7 linked regions of the Homo sapiens genome follow. The protein of the gene in region 5 interacts with the protein of the main gene of each other region in a biochemical or structural test. Each region holds a gene or a part of one and is shown on either strand. Other genes may lie near its edges.

Region 1 (4,055 bases), on a different chromosome or scaffold from region 5:
AATACTTGATACAATAAAGAGCCAATAGAAGATCTTATGGACCCCTGTAAAATGTATTCCGGATATATTCTCTGTGTCTCCCTCCCTCAGAGCTCTTAACACCTGCCTAACCCTAGGCTGAGTGGTGTGAGGCATTCCAAGAAAGTAGAAAGAAGTAAAAGACACTCTCTTTGACCTCAGCTTACAGTCTAGTTGAGGAGAACAGGCATTTGCATGAGGTCCTATTTCACAGTGGCAAGTAACAAGATCTTTGGAGACAGCTTTAGATGTGAGTACAGGCTCTAGTTCTTAGGAGGATCATGTCCTTGTGTACAATTTAAATCTGTTTTTTCATCTATAAAATGAAAATTGTAAGGGACTCTGATTCATGGGCTTGCTTTAAAGGTTAAATGTGTTTAGCTCAGTACTTGGTACAAACAAAACATGTATTAAGTAAACATTATTATAATTAGGAGAAATCACTTAAACACATTCCAAGACCATATATGATTATGTACTAGAAAGACAGAAGCGCAAGTAAGTACTAGAGGAATTGGGAAGAAGACGGGTGTCTGTGTAGCTGGGAAAATATTATATTTGGTAGTAGCACTGGAGCTTGGACAGAGACTCCTGGGAATGATTTCATGCAGGGTGGGCTGGAACAAAAGCAGAGAGGGAGGAAAAGGCATGGTGTGTTTGAAGAACATTAGAGAGACTATTTACTGGAAGATTTGGCATACAGGTGAATGTATTGAAAGGTAGAGTACATACAGTCAGAGTAATTATACTATCACTGGGTTAAGACAACTTCTAGTGTGGGATCCATTTCATTACATAGAAGGTTCAGCTACCCATGGAGGTAGTTTCAGTTCTTTATCTCACCTAAAGCCCCATCCTGAGACATGGAATCCATGATCGGTGTCATAGTGAGGACCCAGAATATTCTTAGGTCTTTTCTTTTAACTTCAAGGCAGAGGGAAAACTTGACCTTTGCTGAACAATAAAGATTTAATATTATGGTTACTAGAACTCTCCCTCATTTTTCCTTATCCCATGAATATTCCAGGACTATATCTCGTTGTATAATAACTAAAATTATTGTATTTTGACCTATGTGAAGCCAGTACTTGTTAGGGTAATTGTATTTCCAGGGGCTTATTTACTTTTCCTAATTACAAAAGCCCCTTTTCATTGGTGTCCGAGATTATTAATAAATTCTAAATGGATGGTGCTCTTTCAGTTTTGTGGCTGTGAGACTAATGTGTGATGAGGATAGAGAGTCTAGGAAGGAATTTGCATGGAGCAGGTTAAGTATACTCTCTGTGTGGAGAGACAGATGCTCACTGGCTACATCTGTTGGCATACCTTTGTTTTTAGTTGAGGTTCATAAACTATTTTGAAAAATTTATCCATAAAATCTTTATCCAACAGCATAAGTGATATGAATTGAATTCTTTTATTCAAAAATGGATTTCCAGAAAATTTTACCCACAAGTTTGAAGTATCAGTATTTATCATGCTCATGTTTAACCCATTTTAATAGACACAATTCCATTGTTTTCTCCCAAATAGTAAAATGTTTCTCATATATTTCTGTTTTGTAGTTCAAATAATATACAAAATTGTCCTCCTGAATATTATCTTAAGATATATTAGTCATAAACACAAATATATTTCTAAAAACTAATGTAAATATACTTCTAAAAACTAACAGACCATAGACTGTAGTAGTTTTATTTTTTATGTTGAGATCTTTCTTAATTGATGTTTTAAAAATTCAGCAAATCTAAATCATACATTTTCAGATGTATTGCTGCTAGTCAGCTTTATATTATACTACCAGAGATTTTTGACATTTTTATTTTCCTTATAAGTGAATTTTTACCTCAGAGCTGAATTCTAACTCAGCCATAAATTTGCATTATATACCTCTTTGAAATTATTACTCATAACACATTTTACAAAACATAGTGATAGTCTAACTTCAGACACCTTAATTTTCTAGGGCTTTACTATTGAACACTATTTTATTTTTCCTTTTATTAATAGGCCTTATCTGCGTACACAACTATTAGACTATTACATTTCAGGTATTAGGAAAACTTGCATTAACAGGAGTGAAAAAGCAGGTATGTTCCCCATACGTGAGGGTGGTGACCAAACAGGGAGGTGGAGTAAGGATGAGACAGAATGAATTAATTGTGTTTTCTCTTTTGAGCTGAAGGATGTATAACTATCTGTTCAATTAGGGGTTTTCTAAATTTTTGCTGCGATGTCTACTATAATCTATGTTTTAGTTGCTTTAAAGTAAGTTTATATGTAAATTTCAATGAATAATTTTTAAAACTAGAGCATGGATAAAAAAGTAATATAAATCATATGTTGATTTTTCAGTATGTTGCTACTTGTAGACATCGGGCTATTTTGTTTGCTAGGCAGTTTTGGGGGAAGCCAGGTAATACATTTATGGGATGTATTGAGATGGAGATACATTAAATAAGATCCTAACTTGCTACAGTGTTTCTACATTAAATGAGTGGACATGCCAGAGGGCTAGAGATAAAAAAGTCCTTGAGTTGTATATGGTCTCAAGGGCCACAGAGCCATAATAGAAAATTAATAGAAAGCTTCTGAGATGTTCATATTCTGCAAGTTGAGTTTATGTTGTTCATTATGTATCTGCAGTAGGTCCAATATCTTTTTTATGGCCCCTTGATGTTTTGGAACTAAAACCATGGACTCTTGATGGAGCTATGTCAGTTGTTCTTCCACATCCCACCCAGAAACCACAAGGACTCCAGAAATCACCAGAGGATCTGATGTTCCCATGTTTTATTTGTAAGCATTTGGTGAAAATTCAGTCTTCCAAGTTTATCTTAAATTCATAGGGCCTGAAGCAGTTGTTAAATATCATCAATCTATCTTTCAGTGAGGAAGTAGCAATGTCCCTTAACTACTTTATAAAGAGCTAATTGTACTCAATTGTTTCCGGGAAAGGGTATCCTACAGTCTTTTAGAGTTTACCACTTCATTCTGTTTCTTCAGGCGTTGATAATTGCCAGAGTAATTTCACAAAATATGTTTTTTTTTTCTAATATGTGGAAGTGGCATAAAGAAGTGTATACAAGACTCAAATTTCCTGGGGAAGCCCAGGCGCAGTGTCTCATGCCTGTAATCCCAGCACTTTGGGAGGCTGAGGCAGGCACATCACCTGAGGCCAGGAGTTTGAGACCAGCCTGGCTAACATGATGAAACCCTGTCTCTACTAAAAATACAAAAATTAGCCAGGCATGGTGACGGGCGACTGTAATCCCAGTTACTTGAGAGGCTGAGGCAGGAGAATCGCTTGAACCCAGGAGGCGGAGGCTGCAGTGAGCCGAGATGGTGCCACTGCACTTCAGCTTGGGCGACAGAACAAGACTCCGTCTCAAAAAAAAAAAAAAAAAAAGAGTCTTGGGGAAAAATAAATCTGTGTCTAAATTCATCTCTCTACTGCACTTATGCCTTTCATGTATTTTTTTTATTATATTACCTAGCATGAATTCATTCAACAGGTATTTTTTGAAAATACCTGCTCTGTGCTCAATGCTCTCATTGAGCTAGAGATTATAATTTTATAAGCACACTGAACCAAGGCAACTGGATTCCCCTCCAGGTTTTCAACCAGCTAATTAATTTGTTATGTGATTAAATAAGCCTCAAACTCTCCAACACTTATTTATTTTATCTGCCTTTTGAGTGACTTAGACTTATATCTAGCTATAAAATTCTATAATTCTACATGTGTTTTTTTCTTAAAATTTCAAGGCAAATGATTTGTTTTCATTGTGTTCCATTTGTTTTTTCTTTTGAAACATAAACTTCTGCTGCATAAGGAAAAAAAAACTTCACCTTCAGTGGCATATGCTTTCCCTTTCCCAATAAAATTGCAAATTTAGCTTCACAGTCTCTGGGCAAACTGTGAGGGACTAAGTAACCTGTCTTTTCTTATCTCTCCATCCTTCCCTCTCTTTCATTTTGAAACTTCTTCCTACATTGAAGGTACAAGTCAGTTGCTACCACTATTTAGGGACTCT
Region 2 (3,497 bases), on a different chromosome or scaffold from region 5:
ACTTAAGCCTACTACAGACTGTTAGAGGCCAGTGGTTTCAAAATTTAGATATAAGAGGGGGGAAAAATGGAACCAGGGCCTGACATTTTATAAACAAACAAAATGCTATGGTAGCATTTTTCACCTTCATAGCATACTCCTTCCCCGTCAGGTGATACTATGACCATGAGTAGCATCAGCCAGAACATGAGAGGGAGAACTAACTCAAGACAATACTCAGCAGAGAGCATCCCGTGTGGATATGAGGCTGGTGTAGAGGCGGAGAGGAGCCAAGAAACTAAAGGTGAAAAATACACTGGAACTCTGGGGCAAGACATGTCTATGGTAGCTGAGCCAAACACGTAGGATTTCCGTTTTAAGGTTCACATGGAAAAGGTTATAGCTTTGCCTTGAGATTGACTCATTAAAATCAGAGACTGTAACACTTTTGCCTTACGTTCATTTTATCAAGCATAGCTTGGTATTTATTATGCTTGTGTGATCTAACATCAGTTAGCATCCCACACCTCCTCATCTGATCCTGCCCCATTAAAATAACCAAGAAAGAGGTTATCTGTTCTTTTCCGGGAAAGGGGTGGTATGCACCTGAAATAGATTTTACCAAAAGAGAGATTTCAGGTATGTCATTTTTTCTTGATTTCCTGTGAACTTAGTATTATACCCTACTTTCAATTCGGTAGTGATGTTTCCTTTTTTTTTTTTCTATCTGCCCCTCACGCTGTGGGGTGAAACCGTGAATAACTTAACTGGGGGAATAAGTCACTTGTGAAAGGGAAATGTTGAAAAATTTTTAGAACACTCAGACATGCAATTTAAGAAAATTCTGAATTTTATTACTAAGGTCTTATTCTGTACTTTATTGTGTTTTGGGTTTCTAGAGGCAAATGAAGGTTAAAGCATAAAAAGTGAATCCAAAACAAAAGCACTATCAAGCATACTCAAAAGGCATTTGTTAATGGTATTTATTCTAGCAACCACAACATTGTTACAAAAGCACAATTTTAATAGGCTTATCTGCTAAGATGCTTTTATAAGCAGCTGTCACCTATACAGAGTTATGAATCATCTTTGGTGCTCAAGGAACCTGTAGAAGTAAGAGACATCATCATACAGAGAAATGTAGTTAAGTTAAGTTGAAGCTTGGAAAAGATCACATGAAAAAAATCTAGCTCTTGCCTTATCTCTTCCTAAGTTAAGCATAAATTAGCCGTCTGCAATAGCCGCCTGTAAGACAAATGATAACAGAAGACAATCACACATGGTGAATGGTTTCCAGTGGAGTTTTTCTTCTAAAGAGACAGTAAACAGGTCACAACTCATTCCTTGAGAAAGGATTCCTATTAAATACCCAGAAACAGCTATCAAATAAACAGCCAAAGCTATTACTTGTTTTCATCACATCTCTGTATCTTCAGAATTGGAAGAAGAATGTGAGGCTGTACTGTGGGCCTGTGTATAAGAAAACAAAGAATTTACAAATGGTAGAGTAATGAAAGAGGGATGATCTATTCTAGAGTTGCATGACTTAAGTCGGGGAGTAGAGTCACTCACTAGAATTTCTTTCTTTCACAGCATGCAGTTGACAGCAATTGTGTAGAGCTGATAAATCAAGTAAAAAGTTTATCAGTATTGTAATGGGAACCCCCAGAAGAGCCTGAATCAGATGATCTGGGTATGACTAGAAGTCAGGTGACCTGAATTCTACACTTGATTGTTTTCAACTTGCTGTTTGACACATTAACAAATTCCTTAATGTCTGTGTATATTTCTTTTTTATAAGACTAGGATATTGACTTCCTAAAGAGAAATTACAGAATTTTTAAATGACAACTAATACAACTAATAGTATTTATTAAGCATTCCTGAATACAAATCAGTGGGCATTGTGTGTGTTCATTAAACTGAGTTTATTAAAATGAATATTCCACCCATTAGCAGAATTAATATAATGGAAAGAAGAACAACATTGAATTAAACTTTTTTAGAGTCTCGGCTTTGCTATAAATTTCCTTTATGAACTTGGATAAGTCAGTTTACTTTTCGACCTCAAGTTCATCTATGAAAAATTGGGCAAAAATATAAAACTGAGACTTACCAAGAAATTTAATCCAAATATATAGAGAATAATATAGAGAATGCTTAATCTTTCCTAGTAATAAAACTGGATTACCTGTCAGTTGTTTTAAACAATATTGTCTTTAACCGTCACCACTTACATGCTCACTATGAGCCAGCCACTATTCAAAGCACTTTAATATAGTTAATCTTAGTTAACATGATCCTGATAACAATCCTACAAATTATTCCTGTTTTATGGGTGGGAAAACTGAGGAACAGAACAAATAAATCCATTTCCCCACAGCTGACAAATGACAGAACCAGAATTCATATCTAGATCATCCGATTCAGGCTCTTTTGGGGGTTCCCATTACAATACTGATAAACTTTTTACTTCTTGATTTATTAGCTCTAGACAGTTGCTGTCAGCTGCATGCTATGAAAGTAAGAAATTTGTTGTTCTTATACTGCCTCCTGTCCTCTACAATAACTTGATTTGTTAGTTATCTTTACATTTTCATTTTCTAGTTTTAAAAAAATCTGTGGCAAACATAGACATTAAATATACTCATAGGGACTGTACCCATACTCTAGTAAATTAGATCACGAAAAGAAATAGGCCCCCACTCACCCGTTCTTTTGCCATGTGCGAGTCATGGTTTGACTCCACCACTATTCCTTCTTTAGAATCTGGAGGGGTGTCAAGTGGATCAGCCAGGGAGGAAACAATAGGGATTTTCTTAGCTTGGAAATAATCATAGGCCTTCTTTCCACAGACTAGAAGTGTGACATTCTTCCCACTGCTCTGGATTCTATCCACCACCTTCTCATAGGGTTCATCTAGCACATTCACCCCATTCACTTCAATGATGACATCCTCATCCTCTAGCCCAGCCAAGTCAGCAGGACCGCCCTTCTGTACCTGTGAACAGAAGTTCTGAGTTATCAATTTCAAACAGAGAAGGGGACATCAGACTAGCTCTCCTTAAGAGAATAGATGAGGAGCTCAAGAATTTATTTTTAATCATGTTATTATTTCTCCTTGAGGTATAGAAGTTGAGAAAGGTGTTCTAATGCTTTTATATTTATGAAGGCTATAACTTCCATATTCACATGATTAGTGGTATTATAAATAGTGGTTCAGCATCATATGTCTTCTGGGATGAAGGGGGATAAATAGGTCCCCCTTCTTCACTCCCAACTTGAAAGCTTTAGGGATTCTTATCAGTCCCTACAGGGTAAGGGGCATTATGCCAAATGCACAGAAGCAAACAAATATGACTGCCAATCAGGGTTGATAGTGACTGTCAACTAGAGTTCAGTCAACTCACACTGTTTGGAACAGATGTTTGGGAAACAAACAAACGTGAGCTTATGATGTACTGGTAGCTAACCTAAAGGGTGTGGGACCATGACAACATTTATCTGAACCCAAGTGA
Region 3 (4,055 bases), on a different chromosome or scaffold from region 5:
ACTAACAGCACATTCACAGGTACCAGGGGAGCCCTGGACAGTCTGGAGTGGTGTCTTTTTCCAGGGAAAGCCAGAGAGAACAGAGACTGCAGCTACTAAATAAATTATTTTTATAAGAACGAATAAATGCCATCCTCGTCTTTAATAATTGTTTTTCCTTTTGCATCCTTCTGAATTCTACATTGGAGCAAAGAAAACAACAAAGCAGTAACTCAGAAGCTTCACATGTGAATAGTTACAAGTCAGCATCAGACAGGGGTTTCAACTGGCAGGGGAGGTGGGATTGTTATCGTTGGTTTTAATACAAGCTGTAGCCTACACCCTATATTCTAGATACTCAAAGAACAGGAAGCACAGCATTTCTCAGCTGCCTGCACATCTGTCTTCTCTTAAGTCAAAAATCTCAGAGAATGATGCACTGTTGCATCCAGATGAATTCCTCTGAAGCTCTTTCCATTCAGGATTTTGAAATTTTGCCATATCACCCTTTTACTGAAGCAGCTGAGGTTCTCAGATCATTCCTTGAAAGAGGTCAAAAGAACTTTTAAATTTACCATCTTATCTTTTCCAACTTGTAATTAGTGTTTTTTTTTTTCTTTTTCACCAAAACAACTAATATTAAGGCCACATACCATTTAGCAGCCAGCTTGGGAAAGGATTGGTGGCCCAAACCACTTCTAACTGCTGGCAAAAAGGTCTCTAAACATCAGATGAGTTCCTGAAAACACTGTGTCACTTAATGAAAATAATGGCTTCTGCCCTCATATCAATCTGCCAAGCACCTAGTCCGGCTTCCCACTGTCCTTCAGGCAGATAGTTAACTGAAAAAAAAAAAGTCTCAGATTTGCAAACCTGTATAATGTAATCTGTAATTACCAAAACAAATTTAATCCACTGTTAGTACTGCTTCCATGAACATATATTAAGTTTAGTGTATATCTCAGGATACAGTAAAAGTACAACTACAATAGCTGTGGATAAACCAAAATTTTATACATTGATTGGTGTTAAGTGCATAGGTATATTTGGTGTTTGAAAGCTTTCTATACTGATCTTTTTTACAGTAAGGAACGCTTTTATAATATAAAGAATGATTGTCAAAAGCTTCAAGGTTCAAATTTTACACAGTATATTCCTTTAAAATAGGCACACTGAAAAGCTAAATTCAAAACTCAGACTCATCTTAGAGGTTGCATCAACCCATCATCAAATGAAGGAGCTACATCTTGAGGGATCAGAATGCCACGAGTGAGTTCAGCTGACAACCATATGCAACCCCTAAGCATCAGCCTCATGTTTCTGGCTTGACTCAAACCATTTCAGATATCGGGAAAATCACAGGCTTTTGTCAATCCGATACAGACCATTATCAAGCTTGCATTAGGGCTAGGCTCTGTGAAAAGGGTTGTGGGGTAGAAAGATGAAGGACATTGTGCCGGCCCTCCCAAGGGCTTTCTATGAGCTGTGGCCACATACACAAGTGACCGCACACAAAATCCTTCAAGGCTGACAGTAATGACTTCTCCATGAGAGGTACCAAGTATCAGGGAACAGTGAAATCCCTGGGATGAGGGGATCTGGAAGACAGCTTCCTAAGGGTGGTAGGATTTGAGCTTAGCCTTCAGGCATAGGCAGGACCACCAAGGCTAAAGCACATGCTAGACAGAGGGGCTAGACGGGGGAGCAAAGGCCTAGAGACCTGAGGCTAGGGGGATTAAGAGTTGGGAGGCTGGGCACGGGGACTCATGCCTGTAATCTCAGCACTTTGGGAGGCCGAGGCGGGTGGATCACAAGGTCAGGAGTTCGAGACCAGCCTGGTCAATATGGTGAAACCCCGTCTCTACGAAAAAATACAAAAATTAGCCGGGCATGGTGGCAGGTGCCTGTAGTCCCAGGTACTCAGGAGGCTGCGGCAGGGCAATTGCTTGAACCCGGGAGGCAGAGGTTGCAGTGAGCCGAGATCGCACCACTGCACTCCAGCCTGGGCAACAGAGCAAGACTCCATCTCAAAAAAAAAAAAAAAAAAAAAAAAAGAGTGGGGACATGGTGCAGAGGAGGGGGTGTGAGAGAAAGGATGGAGGTAGCCCATCATGCCTGCTGGGCTGAGGACTCGGGACTTCAGTATCCATACAGGGAAGACCCACTGAAAGGCTCTAAGGAGGAGCATGATGAGATCAGAGCCACACTTTACAGTACAGAGCACTGAAGCCTGATGCTCAGAGAGAATGGAAAGATGGGGGCATATTTGAGAGAGATTTTGGAAGTAAAAATAACAGGGCTTGGTCACTGTTACTTTACAGGGCAAGGTCACTTGGTCCTTACTGAGTAGATTTCAGTAAGGAGGGAACAAGGGAGAAGGCACAGACAATTAGCCTCCCCTGCTGTAGTTTCCAGCTTGGGAGGAGGAGGGGATGATGGCTGAAGGGTACCCCGCAGCAAGCGGGCACAGCCAGTATTTTGGTACCAGGGCTGGTGGCACCAGGGGCTCAGCTCCACTCTTGCTTTCCCTTTATGCATCAATGAGCACCTCCGGGGGCAGGGAAGGAGGGAGGGAAAGAGATCCTAAAGAAGGGTCTACTGTGCAATGTCCCCGAAGTTGTAGCAGGAGCAGCAGCAGCAGCAGCTCACCACACCACTCGGCCTGATCCTGCAAGTGAAAAGTGCTGTGGGTGGTCATTTCTTCAAAATTCCTAAAATATATAATTCTGTATTGAAGGGGCAGAGAGCCTGCTCTTGAGTCTCCCCGATAACTGTGAGGATAATACCTGTGCACACAGACTGTCTAGTTGTACATGCACCAAGCCCCTTCAGGCCTCCAGGCCTTAGCATTTGCTGTTCCTTCAGCCTGGAACAGTTTCCTCCTTCTCTCACCCTCAATTGAACTTTTATTTGGTGCTTACTACATAACTGGCACTATTCTAAGTACTTTACATGTATCGACTCATTCAGTTATCCAACAACCCTCTCAAGGAGGTACTGTTATTATCCCTAGTTTACAGATGAAAAAACTGAAGTTCAGAAGATTAAATAACCTGATAGTGGAATATATTTAGTTAGCCAAGGGGCAAGTATTCAAATCCAGGTGGTGTGGCCCCAGAGTCTGCATTCTCATACACAGAACTACCCTACCTCTTACAGATACAGAGCTGCTGCACTGACCCTCACCCAGCTCCAGGCAAGACTGGCTCCCTCTCTCCTGTGGCTCTCACTGGCTCAGATAGGCCTGCCCTGACCACCCTCCAATGGAGTCCCACTCCTACTACTTTCTCCCACATTTCCCCACTTATTTTCTTCCCAGCCTTTGGCACAACCTGTAGTTACCTTATTTATGTAATGACTTCTTCATTATTTTCTCCAACTAGAATATAAACTCCAGGAAGGTAGAGACCTTGCCTTTTGTTCCGATGTATTCTCGAGGCACCTAGAACAATTTTCTGGCAGAGAGCAGGTGTTCTATGAACAACCATTGATTGAAAAAATGAAGGACAGTACCATAGATGCTACATAGTGCTACACAGGGTCATAAGGTATTGCAATGTTATTCTTCACCCTCTGTCTTCTTTTTTTTAGAGATGGAGTCTCACTCTTTTGACCGGGCTGGAGTGCAGTGGCCTGATCATAGCTCACCGCAGTCTCGAGTGAGACTCAAGTGATCCTCCCACCTCAGCACCTCAGCCTCCCAAGTAGCTGGGACCACAGGTGCACACCCACTACACCCAGCTAATTTGTAAATTTTTTGTAGAGATGGGGTCTCACTATGCTACCCAGGTTGTATCCTATTCTTTGACCACTGCAAATCTAAGACAGAAGGGAGCCAGTACCCCGCTCCCAGCTATATGGACAAAGCTGATATATTTAGAGCTGTGTCTGTCAAATCTGCCCCCCTCCCCCACCAATCTGGGTCCTTGAGTACATAGTGATAAGCTTGTGTGAGGCAGGGATTGAGCCTTCTGATTAGCCTTCTGTGACCTCCCACCACCTAACAGTATTTACAGGGCATTGCCTGTTGTTGATGTTAGTATCTGATCTGAACACCTTCCAAATAACAAAAAGCC
Region 4 (4,736 bases), about 19 Mb from region 5:
CTCCTGTTCTCAAAGACACCTCAGCACTGGCCACGCTGTGATCAGGCCAAGAGCCGGGCAGAGGCAGTCTGTCTAGTCCTGATGCCTGCCCCAGAGCACAGAAGGTGATCCCTGACTCACCAGGTGAGGGGCCTGCAGATGGGCCAGCGCTGGCCACCATCACTCTCTGAGGTGAAAGGGTCACGGCCAGCACAGGCATTTACCTTCTCAGGGCCCCTCCCCACCTTTCCTGAGAGGTTTCCAGCTGGTAACCACTAGCAACTGGGATGCTGCCTCAGGCAGGACTCATGCACCCTCAGCACCCTGGTGCTGCACCCAGCAGCTCCAGACAGGATGTCCAGATCCAGGCCAAGACAAGCTATCCGCCAATCCTAATCCCCAACCCAAGAGACCCTGCATCCCGCCCTGAAGTCCTAGCCTGACAGAACAGAGAGGATCCTCTACCCACTCAGAAGTGCCTGTTGTGTCTGTGCCTAGAGAGTTCACACACCTGCTGCTCAGTCACTAATGAAAGAAACTCATCATTTCCAGGGCCTCCTGTGTGCTACTGCTTCACACCTGTGCATTCGCTGCATCCTCACGGCAGCCTGGGAGGTTAGCATGACTCACTCCATCCCCAGATGAGGAAACTGAGGCACAGAGAGCCAAACAACTGGCTCGAAGTCACAAGGCTATCAAGGGGCAAAGCAGAGACAAGTGACCCCCACGCCACACTCCTCTGCTTCTTCCCCCAGCTCCCACCGGCCCTGGTACCTGGCTCTGCCCTCAGCCCATGACCAGGGTCCCAGTCTATAGCCTTGTTCCCCTCAAGAATGAACAAGTCCTTCTAAGGGGTGCCTGGGGCTGCAAGGCCAGCAAGCAGCTGACCAGCTCAACCCCAGAAGGTAGTGGGTACAGGGCTCCACGGTCCTCCAACCCTACTGCAGTGGACCACTTATCACTCCTTCCGGTCACTTAGGGGAAGGGGGGGCACCTTGGGCTCCAGCCTTCTACCCTGTCCTGCGCAAAGGACACACACAAACAGGTGCCTGCACTACGTGTGGCTCCAGCAGTGAGCACACACGTCACAGCCAGCTTGTTGTGGAGCCCACTCTGCCTCTTCTCTCTGCCTACCTTCAACTCCTCACCCCACGGCCACCACGCCTCCCACCTGGCCTTTGCCTGCAGTCTCTACCAACCCAAACCCTCTCCACACTGCCCTCAGGATCATCAGGGTCATTATCAGCTGTTCCTGTAGCCCCCGCCCCAGCCCTCAGCCCAAGGCCCCTCACGCCAAGACAGCCCTCAGCCAGCCTTGCTTCCCTGGATCCTCAGGCACCCTCTGCCCCAGGTGGTAAGGCCTCCTCCATGCCCCTCATAGGTGCCTCGGTGCAGACAGCTCCCTCTGTGGGTCAAGACAACATTGACAGCCAACCTGCACAGTGGGGATGAGGACTATGTGGTCCTAGCAAGCGAGAACTCCCTCTCTAAAGAAAAAGACAGATGCTCATGACTGACGGTGCCATAAGACACACACTTGGATAGACATGAGCAGAGAGGAGTGTGTGCTGAGTAAGAGGGCACTGAGGAGGGGCTGGAGACGAAGAAGATGCTAAAGAGGCTTCAGGAAGTGTAGGGGGGTGTCCAGCAGAAGAAACACAAAAAAGAGAGAACTCCAGGTCCTTGGTGGGGACAGTGACAACTGGACTGACAAAAAACAGGGTAACTGGGAAGGCAAGCTCAATCCCACCTCCAGGCTCAAGATCCAGCCCCTGCCTGACCACACAGCCATCCCCACACACTGCCAGTCTGCAGCTGGGATCTGACAGCCTGAGTGCCAGTCCCAGCCTCTCTGAGCCGGCTCAGGCCAGGCAGTCAGCTTATCCGCGCCTAACTTCTCTACAGATGGGGGCAACACCAGGGCAACCCCGGTGGGCTGCTGGGAGGAAGAGGTGAGATCATGTACACAAAGGGCTGTGCGGGGCCTGGCACACCAAGCACGCTCGCCAACGCTGCTGTCTCCAGGCTGTTGCTGATGTCATCGTCAGGCTCCGTTTTCTCCTACCTCCTGGGCTGAAGAGCTCTCAGACACGGGCGCTGACCCCACACACAGACCTCCTGGGCATGGGCACCGACCGCCACGCTGATACCCCACCCAGGGCTTGGCGTGCAGGGCCTGGACCGTCAGGCGAGTCGCCAGGAATGCTCTTCTCTCTACTCTCGACGCTTCCTCCTCAAATCCTCCCAGTTTCAAATCAAACACCGCTTCTCCATGCACCAAACCCGAACTCCACCCCCTCTTTGCACCCCGCCAAGACCGCCGGGGGCTTCAGACGGAGCACCAAGGTCAGAGGCGGGCTGGCGAGCCGCGGGTCCGCGCCCCTGGAGCCACTAGAGCCACAGCCGCCCGCAGCTGGCCAAGGAGAGAGCCCGTCCCACCCCAAGGAGGCCGGGCAGGCCGGGCCCAGCCTTCTCTCCCTGCCGCCACCAGGCCCGCGCGGCCACGCCGCCCCCAGCGGACGCCCATTCTCCCCACGGGCTGTCCGGTCGGCCCTGGCCTTCAGTCCCCGCCCGGCCCCCGGCCCCGGCCCTCAGTCCTCGGCTCCCCCGACCCCGGCCCTCAGCGCCCAGCCCCCGGTCCTCGGCCCTCAGCGCCCGGCCCTCAGTCCTCGGCCTCCCGACCCAGCCCCCAGCCCTCGGCCCCCAGCCCCCGGCCCTCGACCCTCAGACCCAGCCCCTGGCCCTCAGCACTCGACCCTCGGCCCCCGGCCCTCAGCGCTTGGCCTCGGCACTCACCGCGCGGGTGCGGCCCGAACGCCACCAGCACGAAGTAGTCCGCGAGCCGCGCCATGGCGAGGGACGCGGGGCGGCCCGAGGGGCGCGGGCGGGCTCCGCGGCTCGGGGACTCGAGGACGGCGCGCTCATGGCCCGGCCCCGGCCCTGGACCGCGCACCCCGGACACCCCTGGTTCGCTCCGCGGCGGCGGCGGCGGCGGCGGCGGCGGCCCAGGTTCCCGCCGCCATCTTCCCAGCCAGCCGGCCCGCCCGGGCGCGCCGTGCGCCTGCGCGCTGTCGTCAAGCCCTGAGCGGGCGGGGCCTGCAACCGCGCATCTCCATTGGTCCAGAGGGTGGGAGGGCGGCTCCCGAGAGCAGCGCCCCGCCCATCGCTGACCACTCTGGGGCCCGAGCACCGCCCCTCGGGCCGGGCACCTGGACTACGGCTCCGGCGGGTCTGACGCCCTGACCCGGGTCGGCTGTGGTGTCGGCGGGAGGCATGGGCCAGGACCACAGCTGCCCTCGCCGTTGGGACTCCCCGCACAGGAGCCCGAACCCCACCCCTGGGCCGTCCCAATCTGGGGATCGGGTCCCCAGACTCCTCGTCCCCCGCCCCTCTCTGTCCAGCGGGAGAAAGGCGGGAGAAGCCTAGGCGCTGCCTACCGGGCCCCCCAAACTAGAAGTCAGAGGAGGCGCAGGGCCATCACCTCAGGGGCTGCCAGCCTGGCGATGGGGAACAGAGAGAGAATTCAGGCCCTGCCCTTGGGGTCCCAGGCTGAAGAGCCCCCATCTAGGCCAAGTGAGACATTTAACACAGCTTAAAAACGGCACGCTCATGTCCCCCTGTAAAGAGCAAATGTTCTAAGCGTGTGAGGCACATGAGGCCACGGAGCAGGGGGCTCTGGGAAAGCTGCATCCCCCAGGATCCCTGACAGTGCCCACCCCTCTCAAGGGCAGGGCTGGCCAGGGCCACCCCTGAAGTGGCTCAGGGATGAGCATGAGCCCAGAGCAGAACATGCTGGGAGAGAAGGTGCAGGAGCCAGCCTGGTGCAGCAGGGAAACCCCTCTGAGCACAGCAGGCCAAGGTCTGTTTTTTGTTATGTTTTGTTTTGTTTTTGAGGCAGAGTCTCAATCCGTCACCCAGGCTGAAGTGCAGTGACACCATCTTGGCTCACTGGAACGTCCGTCTCCTGGGTTCAAGCAATTCTCCCGCCTCAGCTTCCCGCGTAGCTGGGATTACAGGTGTGCACCACCATGCCCGGCTAATTTTTGTATTTTAGTAGAGAGGGGGTTTCACCATGTTGGCCAGGCTGGTCTTGAACTCCTGACCTCAGGCCATCCACCCACCATGGCGTCCCAAAGTGCTGGGATTACAGGCATGAGCCACCGCCCCCAGCCCGAAGGTCTGTTTTTTGTTTTTTGTTTGTTTTTGTTTGTTTGTTTTGAGACAGAGTCTCGCTCTGTCGCCCAGGCTGGAGTACAGTGGCGTGATCTTGGCTCACTGCAAACTCCGCCTCCCAGGTTCACATCATTCTCCTGCCTCAGCCTCCCGAGTAGCTGGGACTACAAGCACCTGCCACCACGCCCAGCTAATTTTTTGTATTTTTAGTAGCGACAGGGTTTCACTGTGTTAGCCAGGATGGTCTCGATCTCCTGACCTCGTGATCCGCCCATCTCGGCCTCCCAAAGTGCTGGCATTACAGGTGTGAGCCACCGCGCCTGGCCCTGAAGGTCTGTTTTTAAATGAGTTTGGCTGCTGCAAGAACTGGCCAAATGACTGGCATCCAGTCTCCATCCATGGGCAGGAGCCAGCCCAAGAGAATGAATGGAATCAAACTGAGAGGCCCCACCAGGGTCCCCTCCCTGCCCTCAGGCACAGGCCACGCTACGCCTCTCCTCTCCCACTGTTGGTTTTCACAGGTTGAGAAATCATCTTTTTAAAATTTAATTTTTTTGTAGAGACAGGGTCTTGATAAGTTACCT
Region 5 (4,055 bases):
ACCAGACTTTTGAGAGGTGGAGCTTCATAGCCAGGTCATTAGGGGAGAAGGGAGCTATAGATTTTTTTTTTTTTTTTTTTTTTTTTTTTTTTTTTAGAGACGGGGTCTTACTATGTTGCCCAGGCTGGTCTTGAACTCCTGGGCTCAAGTGATCCTCCCACCTCAGCCTCCCAAAGTGCTGGGATTAGAGGCATCAGCCACCCCGCCCAGCGAGCTATGGATCTAACATGTACATCTTACACAGTGCTAATAGAATGTTGGGTTTCTTCCCCAATATTTTATTTTGAAAAAAAATTCAAATATATAGAAAAGTTGAAAATGTAGTTCAAAGAACACCTACATACCTTTCACATAGATTCATGATTTGTTAATGTTATGCCACTTTGTATATATCTCTCTCCCTCTATCTGTATACTTTTATTTATTTATTTTTGCTGAACTATTTCAGAGTAACTTAAAGGCATCTTGATTTTACCCTTGAACAGTTCAATATGTTTCTGCTAAGAATTCTCCTATATAAGTCAGATATCATTACATCTAAGAAAATTCACGGCAATTTTACAATATAATATTATAGTCCAAATCCATATTTCCTCAGTTGTTCCAAAAAATGTTCATGGCTGTTTCCTTTTTTAATCTAAATTTGAATCCAAGTTTGAGGCATTGTATTTGGTTGCTGTGTCTCTAGGGTTTTTAAAATCTGTGCCTTTTCTTCTCCCCATGACTTTTTAGAAGAGTCAAGACCGGTTATTCTTATAGAATAACCCACATTCTAGATTTGCCTGATTAGTTTTTTTATACTTAACGTATTTTTGGCAAGAACATTACATTGGTAACGCTGTTGGTGATGGGTCAGTTTTGAAGAGTGGAGATGATTAAACTGCTTTTGTTCATTGAAGTATCTGTCAAGACCAGAGATCCTTAACTGGTGCCATAAATAGGTTTCAGAGAATCCTTTATATATACACCCTGTCCCCCACCTAAATTATATACACATCTTCTTTATATATTCATTTTTCTAGGGGAGGCTTCTTGGCTTTTATCAAATTCTCAGAGGGCCCCAAGACCCAAAGAGGTTATGAAACACTAGTCTGTCCACTGAGGCAGGCAACACAGAGCTGGTTTCTGGGGCCTTGTTCAGTCTGAACCAGCTTCCCTTGGGGAGATAGCACAAGGCTGTAACTTTGCCCCATCTTGGCTTTGGATCAAAGAGGACTGTCCATTTTGTTGTCATACCTAGGAACCAGGGACAGCTTATGTGGCCTGGTTCCAGGGATCCAGGAGAATTTCAGTTCTTGTCTTGCCTTTCAGGTGTTCAGAATGCCAGGATTCCCTCACCAACTGGTACTATGAGAAGGATGGGAAGCTCTACTGCCCCAAGGACTACTGGGGGAAGTTTGGGGAGTTCTGTCATGGGTGCTCCCTGCTGATGACAGGGCCTTTTATGGTGAGTGAATCCCTTCATATCTGCCCCTCTTGGTCTTCAGAGTCCATTGACAGTGCTTCCAGTTCCCTGTGGCCTGTTAATCTTTTAGTCTTTCCATCAGCCAGGGCATCTCCCTTTATTTATTCATTCATTCAACTAGCAGGTATCAATTGAGCACCTACTAAGTGAAAGGTAAGATCCTTCCCTCAAAGACTTAATAGTTGAACGTTGGGAGTGGGAGGAGAGGCAGGCAGAGAGGAGACACAATATAGTTGGATAAGGACCTCCAAGGAGAGTGTTACAGGCTGAGAGGAGGATATACTTAGGTTGTCTTTAGGGAATCAGAAAAGGAGACTCTGGAATAGGCTGGCAGAGAGAGGGGCTACCTCCTATACCTGCTCTGGACAAACGACTTTAAGCATAGTGACAGACTTGCCAACCCTGTATTGGAAGAACTGATCTTTTTTAGTGGGGATGATTACTTCTGGGGATTTCTTCTCATAACTGAGACCAAAACAGTTTTGTGCAGTCTCAGAAATGACAGGAGGTACCAATCTGACACTTCCTTTGGAAGCTCTAGGGCAGAGAGTGAAAGAGTGGATTTTGACGGGGGCCTTGCTTGGAGGTCATTCACCCACCCCTGTCCTCACTCCAGCAACAGTGATAACTCACTTCCTTCCTCCCTTTGTACACCCTTCTCCCCACCTGCTCACAGGTGGCTGGGGAGTTCAAGTACCACCCAGAGTGCTTTGCCTGTATGAGCTGCAAGGTGATCATTGAGGATGGGGATGCATATGCACTGGTGCAGCATGCCACCCTCTACTGGTAAGATAGTGGTCCTTTGTCTATCCTCTCCCATATAAGAGTGGCTGGCGGGGAGGGACAGTGGCAGGGTGAGTTGGGCAGAAGGAGTGTTAGGGTAGTCAGAGCATTGGATTCTTACCACAGCAGTGCTCTTAACCAGCTCTTTAACTTGTAAGCAGAATGATTTACACATGTCTCTACCCTTTTTCCTTACCAACCTTGAAAATGTCTTCACTCTGCCCTGCAATCCTCCCAGTGGGAGGCACTCTTCAAGGACGATCCCAGAACATTAAAGTCAAAGACCCCTTAGAGCTCACCCTGTCCAACCACCTTGGTTGATAAAAGAAGTCAGCCTGGGGCCCATGGAATAGAATAGTACAAGGGCAAGGTTCTCATTGTGAGTCAAAGGTAGAGTGAAGAGAACCCAGACCATCTCACCCCAACCCAGGCCAGTGTTTTTCCAAATATACCACTTGCTGCAGATCTAGCTCAGCACCCCCAGTCCCAGCCCACCCTGAGAACCCAGGCTCCTCATTCTGAGCAGCCAGCTAGAATCATGACAAAGAGGGTGGTAGTGAGACTATGGGTACTGTTGCTTAAAGCCACATGGTGCAGTGGTTGCTGGGGGGCTTCTGTGTGGGACTCTAGCATCTTATTCCCCCCTGTGCCCTCTCCCCAGTGGGAAGTGCCACAATGAGGTGGTGCTGGCACCCATGTTTGAGAGACTCTCCACAGAGTCTGTTCAGGAGCAGCTGCCCTACTCTGTCACGCTCATCTCCATGCCGGCCACCACTGAAGGCAGGCGGGGCTTCTCCGTGTCCGTGGAGAGTGCCTGCTCCAACTACGCCACCACTGTGCAAGTGAAAGAGTAAGTATTTTGAGAACCCTTCAGCAGGGGTTCTTGAGCAGAGTCTGTAAATGGGCCTCAGAGGGCTTAGACCTCCAAAGTCTCATGCAGAACTCCCTTTATTCTCATCTCATATCTTTCTCCTGGACCCCACTATGCTGTAACCGTACCTGGGCCTTGGCACTTACTGTTCTCTCTGCCCAGGCTACTTCCTACCCGATACTTAAGGCAAGAATCACTCACCTTTCAGGTGTCAGGTTTCAGGTCATGTTTGCTCTTTGAAATCATCTGGCTTGATTATGTGTATTAGTTGTTTATCTTCTATCCCCTCCACTAGAATGTAAATTCCAGAAGAAACTTGCTGTCTTATTCAGTGCTGCATGCCCAGGGCTTGGAAGAGTACCTGGCATATAGTAGGAGTTGATTGATTATTATTTTGTCAGTCGAGAGAATGAATGGAGAAAATGTGGTCCATGGCCCAAAAGAAGTTAAGACCCTATCCTAGATTCAGGCCAGAGACCAGATGGAGAAAGAGTCTGTGTCTATCTAATACCAGTAATGTCGTACCTCTGGCCGCTTACCATGTAAATATTGATTGTGTATCTACCATGTGTTGGACACTAGGCTAGTGCTTGCACAGCAGGTGAAAGATACTAGAGTTTGGGAAGTCAGGAGGAGCTAAGGTCTGTTCTACAACCTTATTAGATGAAGAGGAGAGGGAATTGTGTTCAGGGCAGAGGGAGAAGCATTTCTCCAAAAGTAGGAGTCTTAATCATGTCTGATGTAGGTTGAGTGTGGCCAGAAAAGGGGCTGTTAAGTATAGAGGGCCTGGATTATGAAAATCCAGCAGATCCATTGAGAGTTTAAGCAGCAAGGTGTTGTGACCAAGTTAACATTTTAGAAGGATCACTGGTATGGAGGTTGGATTGGAGAGGGGAAAGCCTAAAGGTATAGAGACTAGTTAGGAAGCTATTGTAG
Region 6 (4,055 bases), on a different chromosome or scaffold from region 5:
CTGTTCAAGCTTTGACTGGTGTACTCCTCCTAAGAAGAGAGGGCTTGCACCAATTGAATGCTACAATAGGATATCTGGTGCATTATTCACTAATGACAAATTCCAGGTCAGCACAAATAAATTGACGTTTATGGATCTTGAGCTAAAATTGAAAGATAAGAACACCCTTTTTACAAGGATTTTAAATGGACAGGTATGATTTTTAAATATAAAGTTGTGAATATTTGCAAATGTTTTATTTTTAAGTAAAAGAAGACACTAGCAGTGTAGGTTTTTATTGATATTTTGCATCAAAAGACTATGATGTATAAATTTTTTTATGAGCAGTCAAGTGTTCACATTACTAAAAAATTTAAAGCTAATTTTTTAGTAATGACTAAACCTACCTAGTAAAGACTAGGTTTGGATAGAATTTACATATCTTCATTAGTTTTTTTTGTTTTTTTTTTTTTAAGACAGGAGTTTCACTCTGTTTCCCAGGCTGGATTGCAGTGGCTCAATCTCAGCTCACTGCAACCTCTGCCTCCCAGGTTCAAGCTATTCTCCCGCCTCAGCCTCCCAAATAACTGGGACTACAGGTGCGTGCCACCACGCCTGGCTAATTTTTGTATTTTTAGTAGAGATGGGGTTTCACCATGTTGGCCTGGCTGGTCTCGAACTCCTGACCTCAGGTGATCGACTTGCCTTGGTCTCCCAAAATGTTGGGATTACAGGCATGAGCCATCGCACCCAGCCAAGATCTTAATATCTAGCCCTTGACATAGTAGAAGCCACAGAAGCATCTTAATGAGAACATGTATGAACAATTGTATTTGCTTTAAGGGCTATATTTGTATATTAATAACCTAGTTGTGCAATTTTTAGCTAGTCTTGAGGGTAAAAATGGGGTAAAACTGTGAAGTACTTTGAGCTAAAAGGTGATTTGAGATTGATCAGTATTAAAATACATGTATTGATTAATACAACAAGAATGATTTCACTTTGAAATTTGTTACAAAGTTGAGTGAAACTAGTATACTAGTGTACTTGTATTCTGTGAACAGACCTCAGAGACTTTTGATACTACTCTTTCAGTAGTTTAATGTTGAATTGCCAAGAAATAGATGATTTTATTATCAATTTATTGCTGGGCAATAAATACAGTGCATAGTACATAGTATTTGTAGTCAGTCAGTCCTGTAAGATGTTGAAATTAATTTTGCTCTTATAAAGCTTGTGAATCATAGAAGATTAGGACACTTTTAAGAATTATACACCGAGAAAGACCTTATCAAAATGAGTTACTACTCCTTTATAATACACTTAGAATTCATTTATAATATGGTGTTAGTTATCCAACATTTATTGAGCAGTGGGTGTTTTCAAAAGCTATCCAGAATAAGTTAATTCTATTCCTTTGTTACACTGTACTTTTAAAATATATATTTTCTAATTTTGAAACATTCAAGCTGCGCATAATGGTTCACACCTGTAATCTTGGCTACTTGAGAGGCTGAGGCAGGAGGATGGCTTGAGGCCAGGAGTTCAAGACCAGCGTGTGCAATACAGTGAGACACCTTCTGTATTTAAAAAAAAAAAAAAAAGAAGGAAATGTTCAAATACACAGAAAAGTTGAAAGAATATTATAAAGTGAATATCTGCATACTTTTCCCCTAGGTTACCTGTCACCTTGACATGCCTTCTGAATTGTACTTTGACTGTTACTGAGTGTCTGGAATTAATGCATTTGGTAATTTGTTTGGTTGATAGTGAATCCATCCTGAGAGTTTTAGAAGGGTAGTTTAACATTTTGGTTGTCAGACTTTCTGGTTCCTAGTTACTAATTTAATCTCCATGTCAGCTGGCAAACTGACAACAATGATTTGCTGATTTGGGAAAGAGTTGGTACCTAGTTATAGGAGTAAGTGTGGCAGCAATTTCCCAGAAACTGTATACCATATTGGACCTGTGAGTCTTTACCATGTATATATATTTCCTTTTTCATTCATATAACTTTAAAAAAATCAAATTTATTAATAACTAAGATAGTATCCTTCTTGACAGCAAGCATCAAAAACTTAGGCTGAAATTATTTTTAATTTTGCCTTACTTTCCTTTGGAAATGGTATATTATGGTATAAGGTACGTAAGAAGGAATGGAGTTCTGTAACTTTACAGACTGTCCTCTGCGAAAGCATGTAATGGGGAGATTGTCTTACCTCCTCATTGCCCTAGAGGCAGGCATCAAACAAGTGTATAGCACCTTATGCTTGAATACAGATTTCTGTATTCTCTCCCAACAGGGTGAAGAATGGTTGGCAAAAACACATCTTCTTAAGTATTATTAGAAAACACTTCAGTTTTATGAGTTTATTTTTTGGATAGGCTCTATATATAAAAGAGAAAATTAAAAAGAAAAGTACATTTTGCATAGCAGTGTTTCTCAACCTTTTTTCGTTATCACCCTCATAAGGAGTCTTTCTTGGCATCTTTTTCTCAATTGTTTTCCCCAATGAAATTTTACTACTGCAGATTTACCATCTATCTGTTTGTATATTGTATTCACGTTTATAAAGTACTTGATACACAATGAGATTTTTATCGTCCCATTGAGAATGTGGTTTACAGTTAGAAGGCCTCCACTCATCCCTTTTGTGGAGCTAGCTAGTTCTCCTCCCAGGCAGTAAGGGTTCATCAGTTTTTAGTGTATCCTAGGAATTAAAGGCGGAAAGGAAGGTTTTATTGTTGATATTGACCAGGGATACCTTGGTTCTAAGAATAATATCAAATTTTTCTTCTTTGGTAATGCATTTGTTTGAAATATCCTAAATGTGTACAGAGGAAGGATCCAGCAGAATATTTAATTTTTTATTAGGTTTTCTGAATTGGAGTATATGAAAGGAAAAAAATAAAATGAATGACAAATGTTTATGGTTATATTTGTTTGCTAGTAGCTATATTTCATAAAACATTTTAAAATTCTACAGGAACAGCGAATGAAAATTGACAGAGAATTTGCTTTGTGGCTGAAGGACTGTCATGAGAAGTATGATAAACAAATAAAATTTACACTTTTTAAGGGAGTAATTACACGTCCTGATCTTCCTTCTAAAAAGCAAGGTCCCTGGGCAACATATGCAGCAATAGAATGGGATGGAAAGATATACAAAGCAGGACAGCTGGTAGGTTTAACTTATTGTCACTTTTTTCTTATAATTTTTAATTTAATTTAAAACACATATGCAGAATCACATGTATAGAAAATAAGCTATTTTTAAAAATTTCTTTTTTTCCCATTCTCACATTTCATGAAGAACATTTATTCAGACTCTTCACAGGCCTGTTTGACATCAGTGTCTTCCATCATCTCTAAGGAAATTTAACTTATTTTTAGATTCAATTTTTAGTAGAAGTTGAGACTAAATTAGATGTATTAAAATTTAACAACAGTAACAACAAATAATGCAAATATTGGCTCCTCAGGAGCTAGGTAAGAATGAAAAGGACAAACTGATTTTAAATTCCATAATTTATTATAGCATTAAAAAAACTATTGCCAGAGGCTCAATTAACAAGGTTTTTATGGTTTCCTAAACTAAACTTTACTCACATGGAGATCTCAGTGTTTTTTGTTTGTTTGTTTGTTTTTAATGTAATGCGTTAAGTAATGATTTTTAAGTATTTTTTTGTTGAGCATCTGCTGACATAGTAAGTTACTGCACCTTTTGACTGTGTGGTGGAGAATTCAGAGATATAGGAGATGTGCTTTGCTCTTGGTGATATTATATCCTAGCAATGGGGATAGTGTAAGCATAAATAATAGGTAAGAAGTGGATCAATGCAATGGAAAGAAAGGATTAATAGTGTTTTGGCAGGTTAGAAGGAGAGAAGAGGAGAGGATTTTTTTTTTTTTTTTTTACTTTGGTTGGTCGTGTGGGCTGGAAGAACAGAGCAGATCGTTAAATACTTTGGAAAAGAAGTAACATTTGTGTGGACCTTGAAAGGGGTAGAGGCTCAGGTTTACACAGATAATTACAAGGTAGAAGGCTCTCTGTTCTCTCCATAAATGAGAGATA
Region 7 (3,613 bases), on a different chromosome or scaffold from region 5:
CCTGTATTTTTGTATCTCTGTTATGCACAGCCTGATCATTCTGCTGCATTTTCTTTGAATGAATTATATTCATAAACTCTATGTGCTCAACATTTGTCATGTGTTTATCTTACTTCATTTCTTATTTGTATAATCTCCAGGCCCTGTACTACTCTTAAAATTATAATAATAATTTTTATTATTCCTACTCCTCACCTATGACTAAAACGAACTCTTCCTAGACCAGATAGTTACAGGATAGTTGTGGCTAGGGCCTTGTTTCTGGCTAAAGGGAATTTTCTGTGCTTAATGTAGAAGTACTTTATGACCCAGAGAGGCTGCGTGTGTGGTGGGGGGGATGCAGGGAGGGATGTGAGTGTGTATGTGTATGGGTGTGTGGGTGTGTGGGTGTGTGTGTGGGTGTCAGGGGATGTGGGTGTGTATGGGTGTGTGGTGGGGGTATGTGTGTGGGGGTGGGAGGGTGTGTGTGGGGTGTGGGTGTGTGTGGGGGTGTGGGTGTGTGTATGGGTGTGTGGGTGTGGGTGTGTGTGGGGGGTGGGCGTATGTGGGTGTGTGTGGGGGTGTGTGTGGGGGTGTGGGGGTGTGTGTGTGTGTGGGTGTGTGTGTATGGGTGTGTGTGGGGGTGTGTGGGGGGTGTGGGGGTGTGTGGTGTGGGTGTGTGTGGGTGTGTGTGTGTATGTGAAATTGAGAGTGCATGTTTTGCCTTTCTTCCTCCTTAGCTTACAGAATTGGGCAATTGCAATCTGTCTTCTGTCAGGACCTCACCAATGTACATAGGTCAGTCAAAGATGTTTCTAATTGATTCTTTATTGACATACCTTAGCGCTCCTCCAATTAACTGGAGAATTCCTATGATTGTTGAGGCTTGCTCTTCATAGACATCTTCTCAGCCTTGCCACAGCCCCATTGGTTCCAGTTGCATATGGCAGCCCTTCATGATATTTTACCATTCAGGCTCTCCTGATTTCACAAAGATTTAGCTTATTTTTTATTAATGAATATCTTTGATGTTCAGAGTGGTTTCTGAAAGGAAAAGGAGAGGAAATTCATTACTCCATTATATTAAAAGCAGAAGTCCTTTCTAAGTCTCCATTACTCTTTGACAATATGCATGCCAATTATGTACACCAAAATTAGACTGGCTTTAAAAATGATGAACTTGAGGCCTTGAGAGTTACTGTGATTGAATTAGGGCCATACACATCAGTAAAAATGAACTGACAGGGTCTTGAGCCTGAATTCAACACATCAGATGGTATCTTAGGAATGCAATGTCAATCAAAGCCCAGTTGCTCTCCTTTGTCCACGTGCGGGAGCTTGTATTGCTCTGTTGATTTTAGTAAAATCTAGCTCTGTTACGGTGGCTTTACTGATGAGTTAGAGTTTAAATATGAACTTAGTTTCAACCTACATTAGAGGAACTATAATGGAGCAAACTCAAGAGAAGAAGGAAAAGAGGGACAAGGTTTCCCATACTCACTGACCTGATACTCTTCTTGCCGCAAACGTGAACGCTTATGGCATTGTCTCCCTTAAGCTTCACAGTCCTTCTGAACTGCTGTTATTATCCCCTTTTGACACATGAAAATGCTAAAGTACAAGAAGCTGAGTAACTTTTTTTTTTTTTTTTTTTTTTGAGACAGTCTCTCACTCTGTCACCCAGGCTGGAGTGTAGTGTTGCAGTCTCGGCTCACTGCAATCTCTGCCTCCTGGGTTCAAGTGATTCTCCTGCCTCAGCCTCCCGAGTAGCTGGGACTACAAGCGTGCACCACCATGCCTGGCTAATTTTTGTATTTTTCGTAGAGATGGGGTTTCACCATGTTGGCCAGGCTGGTCTCAAACTCCTGACCTCAAGTGATCCACCTGCCTTGGCCTCCCAAACTGCTGAGATTACAGGTGTGAGCCACCACGCCCAGCCTGAGTAAGTTTTCAAAGCCACCAGTTCAAAAGTGTTCATACTCCATCTTCTATGATCTTTCAGTTCTACCTTTCTGCCTCCCAGGTTACCATATTCATTCAGTTGAAATTGTCTCAGCCACAGCTTTGGGATTCTGTAAAGATAAAAGATGCACCAGAGGGATTCCTAAATGCTTTGTCTTCATCCTTCGAGCTGGGCGATACCTCCACGTTCTGTGTGCTTAGGGGCCACTTCTCTGAGCAGCATTCATCATGACACCCAACACTAATGCAGCAGGTTTTCAACCTGTAGTTTGTAGCCATTAATCAGTTCCTGTGACGTAAGCTATTGTTATCTCATGTTACAGATGAGGCAGCTGGTAGAGAGAGTGGTTAGGTAATTTTTCCAGAATCAGCAGTGAATCCAGGAGAGAGCTGAGACTGGACCTGTCTATCCCAGACATAGCTTACAACATGAGGGCTTTGCTAAAAGTAGTTCAGTAATCTCAACTCCCTTCATCACCTGCACTGTAAAAAAGATGTTTCATCTCACCTGTGCTGTTACCCATAGTGTGTTATAAAACCTGGTAGCAGAAGAGAAAAAGAAAGGTCAAATCAAAGAATATATACACAGGAAGTTTGTTTTTGACTAAGTATTTCAGACCATGAAGCTAAGACCATTTGGGTTTAAAGTTGCTAATAACAACACTTTCTTTATATATATTTAAAAAAATACATCAAGAGGGTTACACAGAAGGAAGCAGCCTATTTGGGGAAGGCTATCAAGCAGTAGAAAGTGATGTGAATGTCTATTTGTTCTTTTGGCTGTTTTTAGTTTCACTACAGAATAGCCTTTTTGGAGTACATAAATCTATAACCACACAAAATATGGCTAGCTTAAAAAAGTGGGAGAGGGAGATGATATGAAATTATCCCCTGAAAAGTCTTACTTTTGAACACTTGCATTATAATGGAAATAGCCTCAGATTTCTTCTGGTGGCATTCCAGCATTATTGGACAATTTATTTTCTCCTTAAGTGACATTTTAGTACATTGTGTGTTATATGTAATGATATTTCTGGAGTAACAAGTGTGCAAGAAGTGAGAGAAAAAGAAAGTACACTTAATATGTAGGCAGGTGTCTCAGCACTTTCTTTTTTGTACGTGAATCCCATTATCTCCAGTGATAACTTTGTTGACAGCACCCACCAATATATTCAGAGCAAGGTTTTATAAAATAGATCCAGAATCGTATGACTAAGAGACCCAGGTGACACGTGTCAGCCTCAGATAGTTGCTACATTTTCTGTTTTAAAGATTCAAACAAAACTTTTCACATTCTTCTTTGGGGAAAAAAAATTACATTTGAAGTCCTTTTTCACCCAAACACGTTTTGAGATAAGAGCTCACAAGTCTTGACATTATTTCATTTTGTTATGCGCATCTGTCAAGGAACCAAGATACGATACAGCTACTAAAAACTGATGATTGTGGAACAGAGAAACTTGACAGCATTTCATTTCCTTTATGTTCTGATTATACGTTTATCAGAAAACCTGTATCTCTTCTAGTTCAGCTAGAAATTGGTAGAATTCAGGAACTCAAAGGCTTGGCAAAGAACTGTCCTATTATTTGGTATCATCTTACATTTTAGAGAAGTTGCTTGGTTGAGTCATTGTTAAAGCTTTTGCTTCTCTTTTCATTATTGTGGGCCACT

Evidence for each region.
Region 1: the proteins of LIMK2 (region 5) and CTNNA2 interact in a test that uses a peptide from one of them, tested with the Homo sapiens proteins (one large-scale study listed by IntAct).
Region 2: the proteins of LIMK2 (region 5) and PDZK1 interact in a test that uses a peptide from one of them, tested with the Homo sapiens proteins (one large-scale study listed by IntAct).
Region 3: the proteins of LIMK2 (region 5) and FRMPD1 interact in a test that uses a peptide from one of them, tested with the Homo sapiens proteins (one large-scale study listed by IntAct).
Region 4: the proteins of LIMK2 (region 5) and SBF1 interact in a test that uses a peptide from one of them, tested with the Homo sapiens proteins (one large-scale study listed by IntAct).
Region 6: the proteins of LIMK2 (region 5) and SMCHD1 interact in a test that uses a peptide from one of them, tested with the Homo sapiens proteins (one large-scale study listed by IntAct).
Region 7: the proteins of LIMK2 (region 5) and ABCC4 interact in a test that uses a peptide from one of them, tested with the Homo sapiens proteins (one large-scale study listed by IntAct).

The regions. Positions count from the first base shown.
Region 1 is NC_000002.12:79,515,821-79,519,875, forward strand, and holds part of CTNNA2 (catenin alpha-2), read left to right. Parts: intron 1-4,055. UniProt on the Homo sapiens protein: May function as a linker between cadherin adhesion receptors and the cytoskeleton to regulate cell-cell adhesion and differentiation in the nervous system. Required for proper regulation of cortical neuronal migration and neurite growth.
Region 2 is NC_000001.11:145,670,041-145,673,537, forward strand, and holds the end of PDZK1 (Na(+)/H(+) exchange regulatory cofactor NHE-RF3), read right to left. Parts: intron 2,981-3,497; coding exon 2,690-2,980; intron 1,600-2,689; coding exon of another isoform or gene 1,567-1,599; exon of another isoform or gene 1,450-1,566; coding exon 1,396-1,449; 3' UTR 1,225-1,395; coding exon of another isoform or gene 1,204-1,224; 3' UTR 945-1,203; downstream 1-944. UniProt on the Homo sapiens protein: A scaffold protein that connects plasma membrane proteins and regulatory components, regulating their surface expression in epithelial cells apical domains.
Region 3 is NC_000009.12:37,653,475-37,657,529, reverse strand, and holds part of FRMPD1 (FERM and PDZ domain-containing protein 1), read right to left. Parts: intron 1-4,055. UniProt on the Homo sapiens protein: Stabilizes membrane-bound GPSM1, and thereby promotes its interaction with GNAI1.
Region 4 is NC_000022.11:50,472,011-50,476,746, forward strand, and holds the start of SBF1 (myotubularin-related protein 5), read right to left. Parts: upstream 3,026-4,736; 5' UTR 2,831-3,025; coding exon 2,776-2,830; intron 1-2,775. UniProt on the Homo sapiens protein: Acts as an adapter for the phosphatase MTMR2 to regulate MTMR2 catalytic activity and subcellular location. Promotes the exchange of GDP to GTP, converting inactive GDP-bound Rab proteins into their active GTP-bound form.
Region 5 is NC_000022.11:31,256,980-31,261,034, forward strand, and holds part of LIMK2 (LIM domain kinase 2), read left to right. Parts: intron 1-1,311; coding exon 1,312-1,447; intron 1,448-2,141; coding exon 2,142-2,251; intron 2,252-2,909; coding exon 2,910-3,098; intron 3,099-4,055. UniProt on the Homo sapiens protein: Serine/threonine-protein kinase that plays an essential role in the regulation of actin filament dynamics. Acts downstream of several Rho family GTPase signal transduction pathways.
Region 6 is NC_000018.10:2,700,726-2,704,780, forward strand, and holds part of SMCHD1 (structural maintenance of chromosomes flexible hinge domain-containing protein 1), read left to right. Parts: intron 1-9; coding exon 10-193; intron 194-2,966; coding exon 2,967-3,161; intron 3,162-4,055. UniProt on the Homo sapiens protein: Non-canonical member of the structural maintenance of chromosomes (SMC) protein family that plays a key role in epigenetic silencing by regulating chromatin architecture.
Region 7 is NC_000013.11:95,022,230-95,025,842, reverse strand, and holds part of ABCC4 (ATP-binding cassette sub-family C member 4), read left to right. Parts: intron 1-3,613. UniProt on the Homo sapiens protein: ATP-dependent transporter of the ATP-binding cassette (ABC) family that actively extrudes physiological compounds and xenobiotics from cells.